4 separate regions of the Homo sapiens genome follow, and all the other regions are linked to region 1. Evidence: fine-mapped expression QTL. A gene starts in region 1. Each other region holds a variant in brackets. All regions are shown on one strand. Distances are between the middles of the regions.

Region 1 (2,764 bases):
AAATTTAAAATAGGGATAATCACCTTGTGGTTCTCCCAGTCTGCATGCTAATAAATTTGTATGCCTTTTCTCCAAAAGAAAAACAAAACAGGTTTTTTTTTTTTTTGAGACAGTCTCACTCTTTTGCCCAGGCTGCAGTGCAGTGGCATAATCTTGGCTTACTGCAACCTCCTTCTCCCGGGTTCAAGTGATTCTCCTGCCTCAGCCTCGCTTGGGAGCAGCTGGGACTACAGGCGCGCGCCCCCACGCCCAGCTAATTTTTTGTAGAGCCGGGGTTTCGCCGTGTTGTCTGGTCTCGAACTCCTCAGCTCAAGGATCCGCCCCGCGGCCTCCCAAAGTGCTGGGATTACAGGCGTGAGCCACCGCCCCGGGCCTCACATTTTATTTCTATTGGCTAGCGCTGCTCTAAATCTTCTGTTCCTTCTGCTACACCAGGCCTAACACTCAAAATCCCTGCCAACCTTTTCCTTCCTGAAGCTTCCCTCCCCTTCCTCAGCTCTGGCGACCCTGCGCTGTGGTGGTTCTCCAACCACACTCATTCTCCTCAGCTGGCTCCTTGCTCTTCTTCCACCCCCTCGTTGCAAGTGTTCCTAAGTGTTTGCCTTGGCCTCCTCTTCCCCTTCCTTAGCTTAGACTTCTCCACTGCTCCAACATCAACTGGAAATCTATGGAATTGATTCCTGTTTTCAGCTCCAGTCCTGTTCACAGGGCATTTTCACCTGCTGGCACTTCCAAAGTGACACTTCCAAACCACTTCCTCGCCCTCCTCTCTAAACCAGGTCTTTCTTCCTAACTTCCTTATTTCTGAGAATGTCTCTGCCATGTTCTAAACTGAAAACCTCCTAGTCAACTTCACACTTTATTCCCTGATCCTCAATTGGTTCCCATGTCCCGTTAGTGTTTCTTGTAAGCCTCTGCCACCACCGCAGATCGAACTCTAATCACATCTCACCTGAATTATGGAAAAGTCACCTCAATTCTCTCACCCATCCCAGCCTCCACTATGGATTAATATGCCTAAAGCAGAGCTGACCACAACGGTGAGAAGAATCTGAGAGGGAAGCAGCAGCAAACACAAGAGTCACTGGACATGCATGCCTCGAGACAGTCCCGACCAAGGAGAAAGCATCAGACCCCGTCTTCCGCCTCGAACAAGAGGCGTGCGGACTTCGCCCAGAATGCTCGTCGCCCCTGGACAAGGACACACCCGGGGCGTGAGGCGCGGAGTTTCACCAGTTGCTCAAGCAGACCCAGCCCAAGACGCTTCCTCTTTCTCCTACTCCACTCCAGTTCAGACGGCTACTAATCCCGGCCCAAGGCACCTGCGCCCTGAGACGTCTTCGAGCAAACAGCATTTCCGGACCAAGGCTCCCCGGAATCTCTCTCCACCCGGCCGCGCCCGAAGCCCGAGAAACGGGCCGCCCCTCCTGGTTTCCCACACGGGGTTCCCCAGCCCCAACCGGCCGCGCCCCGCCCCTCATCTTTTAGGACACCGGCTTCGCGGCCCGGGCGGCCACAAAGGGCCGGGCCCTGCCCGCGGCCGCCCATGTCCGCGGTGCCTTCCTGGCTTGCCCGGACTCCCCATCACGCACATACGCTTCCCCGCCGCCCCGCTGCCGCCGCGGCTCGTAGCTCAGGTTCCTTCCAGACCAGCCGCTGTTTTGTTTCCGATGTGAAACCGCGGACCCCGGAGCTGCCTGTCCCAGGCCCCGCCCGAGAACCCTCACCGTTGTCGTCATTTCCGGCTCTGGCGTCGTTGGCGGCCGGCCCACGGAGGAGGGGAGGAGCCAGGAGGAAGGGGGCGGGGCCTCCGGCCTGGAGAAACGATTGCGGGGAGAACCCAGAGCTCCACCTGGCCTTCCCCACCTGACGGAATCCGCCCAGAGCGCTGGCGTGGGTTGTCGGGGTTCTGAGGCTGCTCGAGCTGAGGACGAAAGCCCCTATATAAATTGGGCCCAGCGTGTGCTTCTCCCGGCATACAAGCGATGGCCATCCTAAATTTAACACCTGTCATTTCTTTAGGGTACCTATTTGCGAACCAGCTGCATCACAATCAAGAGAATGCTGTTAAAATCGCAAATATCTCTGCCCTCTCCCACCACTCAATGAATCAAAACTTCTGGTGGGTGGCGAGAACCTGAGAAACTGCATTTTAAACATCCTCCGCGATTCTTGGACTCCAACTTTGACAACCAGTCTTTCTAGGTGGCAAGCTAGCTGAGAGCAGAAAATGTGTCTGGTTTGCTGGGTCACTTGATTTTTGCATCTGCCTGCTCTTTGTCCAGTTTTGGTAAAGACAGTACCAATGTCTAATTCATTAGACAGCATACCACACTTACACATATATCCAAAAGCTAAAACTAAAAAATGAATACTACCTTATTTAATCAAGGTGAACGGAGAAATGTCAAACATGGGTATTCAAAAAACCGAAAATGAAATTAACGGTACATGGTATCTGGGCAAGTTACATTCTTCTAAAGTTTCTTTAAAAATCCACCCCCAAGCGGCCGGGTGCAGTCGCTCACGCCTGTAATTCCGGCACTTTGGGAGGCCGAAGCAGGCGGATCATGAGGTTGGGAGTTCTAGACCAGCCTAACCAACATGGTGAAACCCCGTCTCTACTAAAAATACAAAAAAATTAGCCGGGTGTGGTGGCGCGCTCCTGTAATCCCAGCTACTCGGGAGGCTGCAGCAGGAGAATCGCTTGAACCCGTGAGCTGAGATCACACCACTGCACTCCAGCCTGGGAGACAGAGCAAGA
Region 2 (2,500 bases), 59 kb before region 1:
TGAAACCCTGTCTCTACTAAAAAATACAAAAAATTAGCTGGGTGTGGTGGCGCGTGCCTGTAGTCCCAGCTACTCGGGAGGCTGAGGCAGGAGAACGGCGTGAACCCGGGAAGCGGAGCTTGCAGTGCGCCGAGATTGCGCCACTGCACTCCAGCCTGGGCAATACAGCGAGACTCCGTCTCAAAAAAAAAAAAAAAAAAGAAAGAAAGAAAGAAAATTCAGAATATAAAAATATAAAAATAATTTTAAACACTGAAAAATATAAAACAGGTATAGCTAAACTTGTAAAGGAAGAATTGATAACTTGTATTCACATTATTGTCACTTAAATGCATTTACATTTAAAAATTTCATGTCTTGCCAGGCACAGTGGCTTATGCTTGTAATTCCAGCACTTTGGGGAGGCTGAGGCAGCAGATCACTTGTGCTCAGGAGTTTGAGACCAGCCTGGCCAAGATGGCAAAACCCCGTCTCTACCAAAAATACAAAAAATTAGCAGCTCATGGTGGCAGGTGCCTATAGTCCCAGCTACTCAGGAAGCTGAGGTGGGAGGATTGCTTGAGCCCTGGAGGTGGAGGCTGCAGTGAGCCAAGATGGCGCCACTGCCTAGGTGACAAAGTAAGACCGTGCCTCAAAAAAAAAAAAAAAAAAAAAAAAATTTCATGCCTCAAAGTGGTCATGTCTCTTCATATAATAATATATATGTACAATATAATATAGTATATATAGAACTATAATATAATATAGTACAGTAATAAAACACACATACACAAAGAAATCTCTACTCTCACCACTTCTACCTCAATTTGTTTGAATGAGAAGTCTGCCCTGCTCTGAAGTGATGAGATTTTCAACTTGTTTGATTCTGCCACATTCAGTACTATTTCAGTTTTATGATACACTCTCCCTTAAAGAATTGCTAAATGATAAATCTGCTTATTTTTTAGAGCAATTAAATTAAAATTGCTTTTGCTTTGAAAATTTCAGAACTTTTTTGACAAATTAAATCTTGAAATCTTGTAAAAATGGAGCCGAGAATCACTACTCTAAACATTGGGTACAAAAATCTCTTTTGTTTAAAAGCAACTCAAAGCTCTGTAGAGATACTCATTTGTATGATGTGCAGACAGAATGGAGGGTTGATGGTAAAAATATTGTAATACGGTGAAAAGAATATTGGACTTGGGATTCAGATTCGAGATCAGAGTTTA[G/A]GCTTAGGCAAATAATTTACCTCTGTAAACTTCAAGTTTCTTAGCAGTAAAACAGGGATAATAACTGCCTTGATACTTCATAGGATTATACAAAAATATAACACTGGGCTGGGTATAGTGGCTCACACCTGTAATCTCAGCACTTTGGGAGGCTGCTTGAAGCTAGGAGGTCAACACCAACCTGTGCCTGTAGTCTTATCTACTCGGGAGGCTGAGACAGGAGGACTGCTTGAGCCCAGGCTTTTGAAGCTACAGTGAGCTATAATCGTGCCACTTCACTCCAGCCTGGGAGACAGAGTGAGATCCTGTTTCTTAAAACAGAAAAAAATTTACTGATAGACATTGTTCTAAGTGTATTATTGTATTAAATGGATCATTTAATTTAATCTTCATAACTGACATAGGAGTTGAGTAACTTGTGTGGTCAAATAGCTAGTAAGTGATGAGTAGGCTGGGCGCAGTGGTTCAAGCCTGTAATCCCAGCACTCTGGGAGGCTGAGGCAGGCAGATCACTTGAGGTCAGGAGTTTGAGACCAGCCTGGCCAACATGGCAAAACCTCGTCTCTACTAAAAATACAAAAATTAGCTGGGCGTGGTGGTGCGCACTTGTAGTCCCAGCTACTCGGAAGGCTGAGGCAGGAGAATCGCTTGATCCCGGGAGGGAGAGGTTGTAGTGAGCTGAGATCACGCCACTGCACTCCAGCCTGGGCAACAAAGCGAGACTCTATCTCAAAAAAAATAAAAATAAAAAGTGATGAGTAGAATTTGAACCCAGACATTCTGTCTCCAGACCTGGCATTCTTACTCACAGCTAAGCAAGAATAGATGGTTACTTTGCAAACCATCAAGTACTATACAACATAAGGTAATTATGAAAGTCAGAGAGAGTATATGACTTCTATAGTTCCACAACTGATTACTCAAATACAAGAACAGAACCAGTTCAATCCTATTTCCACAGACTTCTTCGTCAATCAAATGAGGATGATGTTTCCTATTACAGGCCACCAAACATTTTAGTAAGTATGTAAATAATGACAAAAGTGTATGGCCAGGCCGGGCACGGTGGCTCATGCCTGTAATCCCAACACTTTGGGAGGCCGAGGCAGGTGAATCATGAGGTCAGGAGATCGAGATCATCCTGGCTAACATGGTGAAACCCCGTCTCTACTACAAATACAAAAAAATAGCCGGGCGTGGTGGCAGATGCCTGTAGTCCCAGCTACTTGGGAGGCTGAGGCAGGAGAACGGCATGAACCTGGGAGGCGAAGCTTGCAGTGAGCCAAGAT
Region 3 (2,500 bases), 44 kb before region 1:
CCCAGGCTAGACTGGAAAACCTGGGCTCAAGCAATCATCTCGTCTCAGGGTCCCAAGTAACTGGGTCTACAGGTCCGTGCCACTGCACCTGGCGTGAAACTATGATTGATTGACTGATTGATTGATTGATTTTGAGATGGAGTTTTGCTCTTGTTGCCCAGGCTGGAGGGCAATGGCGCAATCTCACCGCAACCTCCACTCCCCAGATTCAAGCGATTCTCCTGCCTCAGCCTCCTGAGTAGCTGGGATTACAGGCACTCGCCACCACGCCCAGCTAATTTTTTTGTATTTTTAGTAGAGACAGGATTTCTCCATGTTGGTCAGGCTGGTCTCGATCTTCTGACCTCAGGTGATCCGCCCACCTCAGCCTCCTAAAGTGCTGGGATTACATGCGTGAGCCACCACGCCCAGCTGAAACTATGATTTTTAAATGACAAAATAATAGTCTACTCATACGGATAAACCCACAATTGAACCTTTGCCTTATGCATGGAATCTGTATTGTTTTCCCTTTCTTTCCCCAATTTTAATTTACATTAAAATGAACATCCTACTTCACAAATATTTTTCTGCATTTCTAATTCCTTCTTTAGAATATATCATAAAAGCAAAATTACTAAATCAAAGTGTACAAACTTTTTCTAATTACTGATTTAATTAATACACACTGGCTTAGTTACTTGACAAAAAAGACTAATCTTGACAAAGTCAATATGTCAAATATGTTAATTTGTTATTTTCATATGCATTTCTTTTATTACTATGTTATACACACACATTTCAACAGGCCTTTCTCATCTTGCAAAAATCCCTAGTTCAGCTTTCCTGTGCTAAAGGGTATGAAAGAAAACAGCCCTGCTGTTTTATAGTACACAACAGTATCTTCTCTAAACCCTAAACTATCAAGGCCAGAAATCATCTGACTTTAATAAGTTATAGTTCCTTTTATAACAAATTATGTATAATAATTAACTGCCTTTCCTGTTTTTAACATTTTAAGGTTTGGTCTTTTAGTTTCTAGGGCTTGCCACAGACATTGCATAAC[C/T]AACCACTGATATGAAAAATCCTCAGGGTTTATTTCCAAACAGGCTCTGGCAAGTTACTCAATCTCTGACTCAAAAGATCCTTTTAGTTATACTGGGTGTCAAAGTAAACAACTTGTTTCTATATAATTGTTTGTGTGTGCTAAGACTTGAACATTAAAAAACATCACAACACAAATGAACAAGTAAATGTGGAGATCTGGCTGAATACAAACCTCTTAAACTGTCTAAAATGAAGGATAAGGCTGGGCGTGGTGGCTCAGGCCTGTAGTCCCAGCACTTTGGGAGGCCGAAACCAGTGGATCACCTGAGGTCAGAAGTTCGAGACCAGCCTGGGCAACATGGGGAACCCTCATCTCTACTAAAAATGCAAAAATTACCCAGGCATGGTGGCGTGTCCCAGTAATCCCAACTACTTGGGAGGCTGAGGCAGGAGAATCACTTGAACCCAGGAGGCGGAGGTTGCAGTGAGCCAAGATCATGCCACTACACTCCAGCCTGGGCGAGAGACTGAGACTCCGTCTCAAAAAAAAAAATAAAATAAAATGAAGGATGGATAAAAGATGTACAAATGCGACAAAAAATATATTAAGAAAGGTTCCAGATAAGATGGAGTAAGTACCTTCCACTCTCTCTATCCCACTGAATACAGTTACAAAACCTGGGCAGAAAGCAGGCAGCAGCTGGTTGCAAAAGATGAAAAGTAATGAGAGGTAGGTGGGCTGGGGAATTAGAAGTACTAGCAGTGAGCTGACCACTTTTTTTCCTCCACCTGTGCTCATTACAACATGAGTGGGCATTAGCAAGACAATGGGAGCTCCAGAAGACCTCTAGTTCTGGCTTGAGGATCAGGAAAGAGGTCTCCTAACACCCAGACAGTGTAAAAATCCAGTTTTTCTTCCTTTTTTTTGGAGACAGAGTCTCGCACTGTAGCTCAGGCTGGAGTGCAGTGGCACGATCTTGGCTCACTGCAACCTCTGCCTCCCGGGTTCAAGCAATACTCCTGCCTCAGCCTCCTGAGTAACTGGAACTACAGGTGCCCACCACCATGCCTGGCTAATTTTTTGTATTTTAGTAGAGACAGGTTTTCACTGTGTTGCCCAGGCTGGTCATAAACTCATGAGCTCAGGCAATCTGCCCGCCTTGGCCTCCCAAAGTGTTAGGATTACAGGCGTGAGCCACCACACCCGGCATTCTTTTCCGCTTTTCTCCATTCTCGTATGCCCAGTCCTCACACAATCCTGTGGTGATGGTAATGTGGGTGGCAGAAGCCTAAAATTCAGAGGGAGGGAATCCTTACTCTGACTGGAAGAATGTCAGTCCCGAGAGAGTGGGGCAAATAGCCCTTGCTTTATTTCTCTCTCTCCTCCCACATTTTGGCCCTGACTTTAGGAAGATAAAGTCCACTTTTGGCTGCAGGAATGGAAAAGGGAAGCCCAAGAAACCACATGGAGATC
Region 4 (2,500 bases), 68 kb before region 1:
TCAAGATATTATCTAATAAAAGTTACCTACTTTCTGCATTATACTTGGAATTTTTGGATACTCTCCTTTGAGCTTCCGGGTCTCCTTCTGCCATATTCACCAACCACACCATTGTTGCTGTTGGGAAAGACAAAATTCCAGGTAAGCACTGGACACACAAAGTATGCATAGACAACAACAAGCCATCATTTCTCCACACAAATCGCCAGTCTTCCTAATGCTGCCTTAAGACTGTTCAACAATCAGAAGTAAAAATAAAAAAAAGGTTCTCTTTGGTTTTAGCAGGTAAGAGAAGAAGTTCTGAAACTGAATGTTTACTGTAGTACTCAAACTGCACCTGCTATCACAAAACTCTTCATCATTTTTAGTCCCTGAAAAGGAACCAGAAGGAAAACTGTTCAGGCCAGCAAGATTCCACTGAAACAATAGCTGGACTAGTTGAATGTTCTAAATTCCAGGACAAACTGGAGCTCACAAAAGCCTCAGATGGTGATTATAATTCAAAAGATGCACAGAGTAAATTTCCTTCATATTATGTCTCATTTTTAGAATGTTCAATAATGCTAAACCATGTTTTAAACCCGGCGTGAGAAAAAACGTTAAAAGCAATAAACATAATAGGGATAGTCAAGAGGCCTCCTCTGTGCCCCTTCTACAAAAATACATGTATATCAATATATCAATCTAGATCTAGATATACACATGTGCATCTCTACCACATTTTAGTTCAGAGACATTGTGAAAACTTTAAAATGGTGCTTCTCTCATATATTTCAGGCAGGAATGAAAAATGGTATAATCCCCACTGGAGGGAAATTTGGTAACATCTAATAAAACTACATGTGCATTAATCCTTTAACCCAGCAATATTACATTTTGGAACTTATCCTGAAGATACACCAACAATAACACAAAAGTACATATAAGCAAACACATGACATATGAGGTTATGGTGGGAACCAAATGCCAGCAGCAAGCTGAGTCCAATCTGGTCACAGTAATTTTTTTTTTTTTTTTTTTTTTTGAGACAGAGTCTTGCTCTGTCACCCAGGCTGGAGTACAGTGGCATGATCTCGGCTCACTGCAAGCTCCGTCTCCTGGGTTCACGCCATTCTCCTGCCTCAGCCTCCCGAGTAGCTGGGACTACAGGCGCCCGCCACCATGCCTGGCTAATTTTTTGTATTTTTTTTAGTAGAGGTGGGGTTTCACTGTGTTAGCCAGGATGGTCTCGATCTCCTGACCTCGTGATCCGCCCGCCTCAGCCTCCCAAAGTGCTGGGATTACAGGCGTGAGCCACCACGCCCGGCCTGGTCACAGTAATTTTAAACAAGATACTTGACATTTATGTCTCTCTGGCTTTTTATCAC[A/T]ATAATTTTATCCATGTTTCTAATACTCAGGCTTCTTGAAGAACTTATGAAAGAAACACACAATCAAAGAAGCTGAACGACCACCTTGTTATTTCTGAGGTCAACCAAGTTTCATTATAGGATAACCCAACCAAATGATCAAAAGTTAACAGAAACCAGGCAGGCAATACACTGTTTAACTAAATCCAGATCTAAAGAAGAAAAACTGAAGGGCAACCACCAAGTATGAGGTTTATGGATTAGTTTTTTATCTTCATTTTTTCTAAAAACAGGGTCTCACTACGTTGCCCAGGCCAGACTCAAACTCCTGGGCTCAAGCAATCCTCCCGCCTCAGCCTCCCAAAGTGCTAGGATTACAGGCATGAGCCACTGCACCCAGCCTGTTTATGGATTTCCATAGCCTTTTGGAAATGAAGCCACCAGCGATTTATTAGGTTTTCTTTCTTTATGCAAGTATGAAAAAATATAGCTACAAGCTCCTTTGTTTTAGCAGTTAATAGTAACATGAAAATCAATGTCCAGCTAACTTTTTCTGTAAATGGCCAGGGAGTAAACATTTCAGGTTTTGTGTGTCACATATTCTTCCTTGTTCTTTTTTTTTTTTTTTAAATGTAAAAAGCATTTTTAGCTTATAAGCTGTACAAAAACAAGCCATGGGCCATATTTGGCTTCAAGCAGTAGTTTGCTAACCCCATGTTAATTATCATAAATAGTATATTTGTTAAATAGTCCTAAAATAATATTTTTTTAAAAATCACTTTTCATTTCACCTTAACACAAACACCTTACATCAACAGGAAAATAAGCAGATTTCGTTTAAATTAAAAAAAAAAAAAAAGGCCAGGCATGGTGGCTCACACCTGTAATCCCAGCACTTTGGGAGTCGGAGGTGGGTGGATCACCTGAGGTCAGGAGTTCAAGACCAGCCTGACCAACATGGAGAAACCCTGTCTCTACTAAAAATACAAAATTAGCCCGGTGTGGTGGTGCATGTCTATAATCCCGGCGACTCGGGAGGCTGAGGCAGGAGAATTGCTTGAATCCAGGAGGCGGAGGCTGTGGTGAGCCGAGATCGTGCCATTGCACTCCAGCCTGGGCAATGAGAGCGAAACTCTGTCTCAAAAAAATAAAAT

The links. PIP is the estimated chance that this variant, and not a neighbour inherited with it, causes the effect.
Region 2: its variant is fine-mapped to the expression of PSEN1 in whole blood (INTERVAL, PIP above 0.99).
Region 3: its variant is fine-mapped to the expression of PSEN1 in whole blood (TOPMed, PIP above 0.99).
Region 4: its variant is fine-mapped to the expression of PSEN1 in whole blood (TOPMed, PIP 0.91).

Annotation. Positions count from the first base shown.
Region 1 is chr14:73,135,412-73,138,175 of GRCh38, reverse strand. It overlaps PSEN1 (presenilin 1), which reads right to left and starts at 1,669. Exons shown (of 12, transcript NM_000021.4): 1 at 1,593-1,669. RefSeq lists an enhancer at 1,210-1,319 and silencers at 1,490-1,549, 1,810-1,889.
Region 2 is chr14:73,194,633-73,197,132 of GRCh38, reverse strand. The region is part of intron 7 of PSEN1 (presenilin 1); the gene reads right to left. Among named protein-coding and RNA genes, the nearest start is that of PAPLN, 42 kb to the left of the region's middle. The variant G/A (reference allele first, on the strand shown) is at 1,212.
Region 3 is chr14:73,179,071-73,181,570 of GRCh38, reverse strand. All of the region lies in intron 5 of PSEN1 (presenilin 1), which reads right to left. Among named protein-coding and RNA genes, the nearest start is that of PSEN1, 44 kb to the right of the region's middle. The variant C/T (reference allele first, on the strand shown) is at 1,046.
Region 4 is chr14:73,204,003-73,206,502 of GRCh38, reverse strand. PSEN1 (presenilin 1) reads right to left here. Exons shown (of 12, transcript NM_000021.4): 9 at 31-117. Among named protein-coding and RNA genes, the nearest start is that of PAPLN, 32 kb to the left of the region's middle. The variant A/T (reference allele first, on the strand shown) is at 1,368.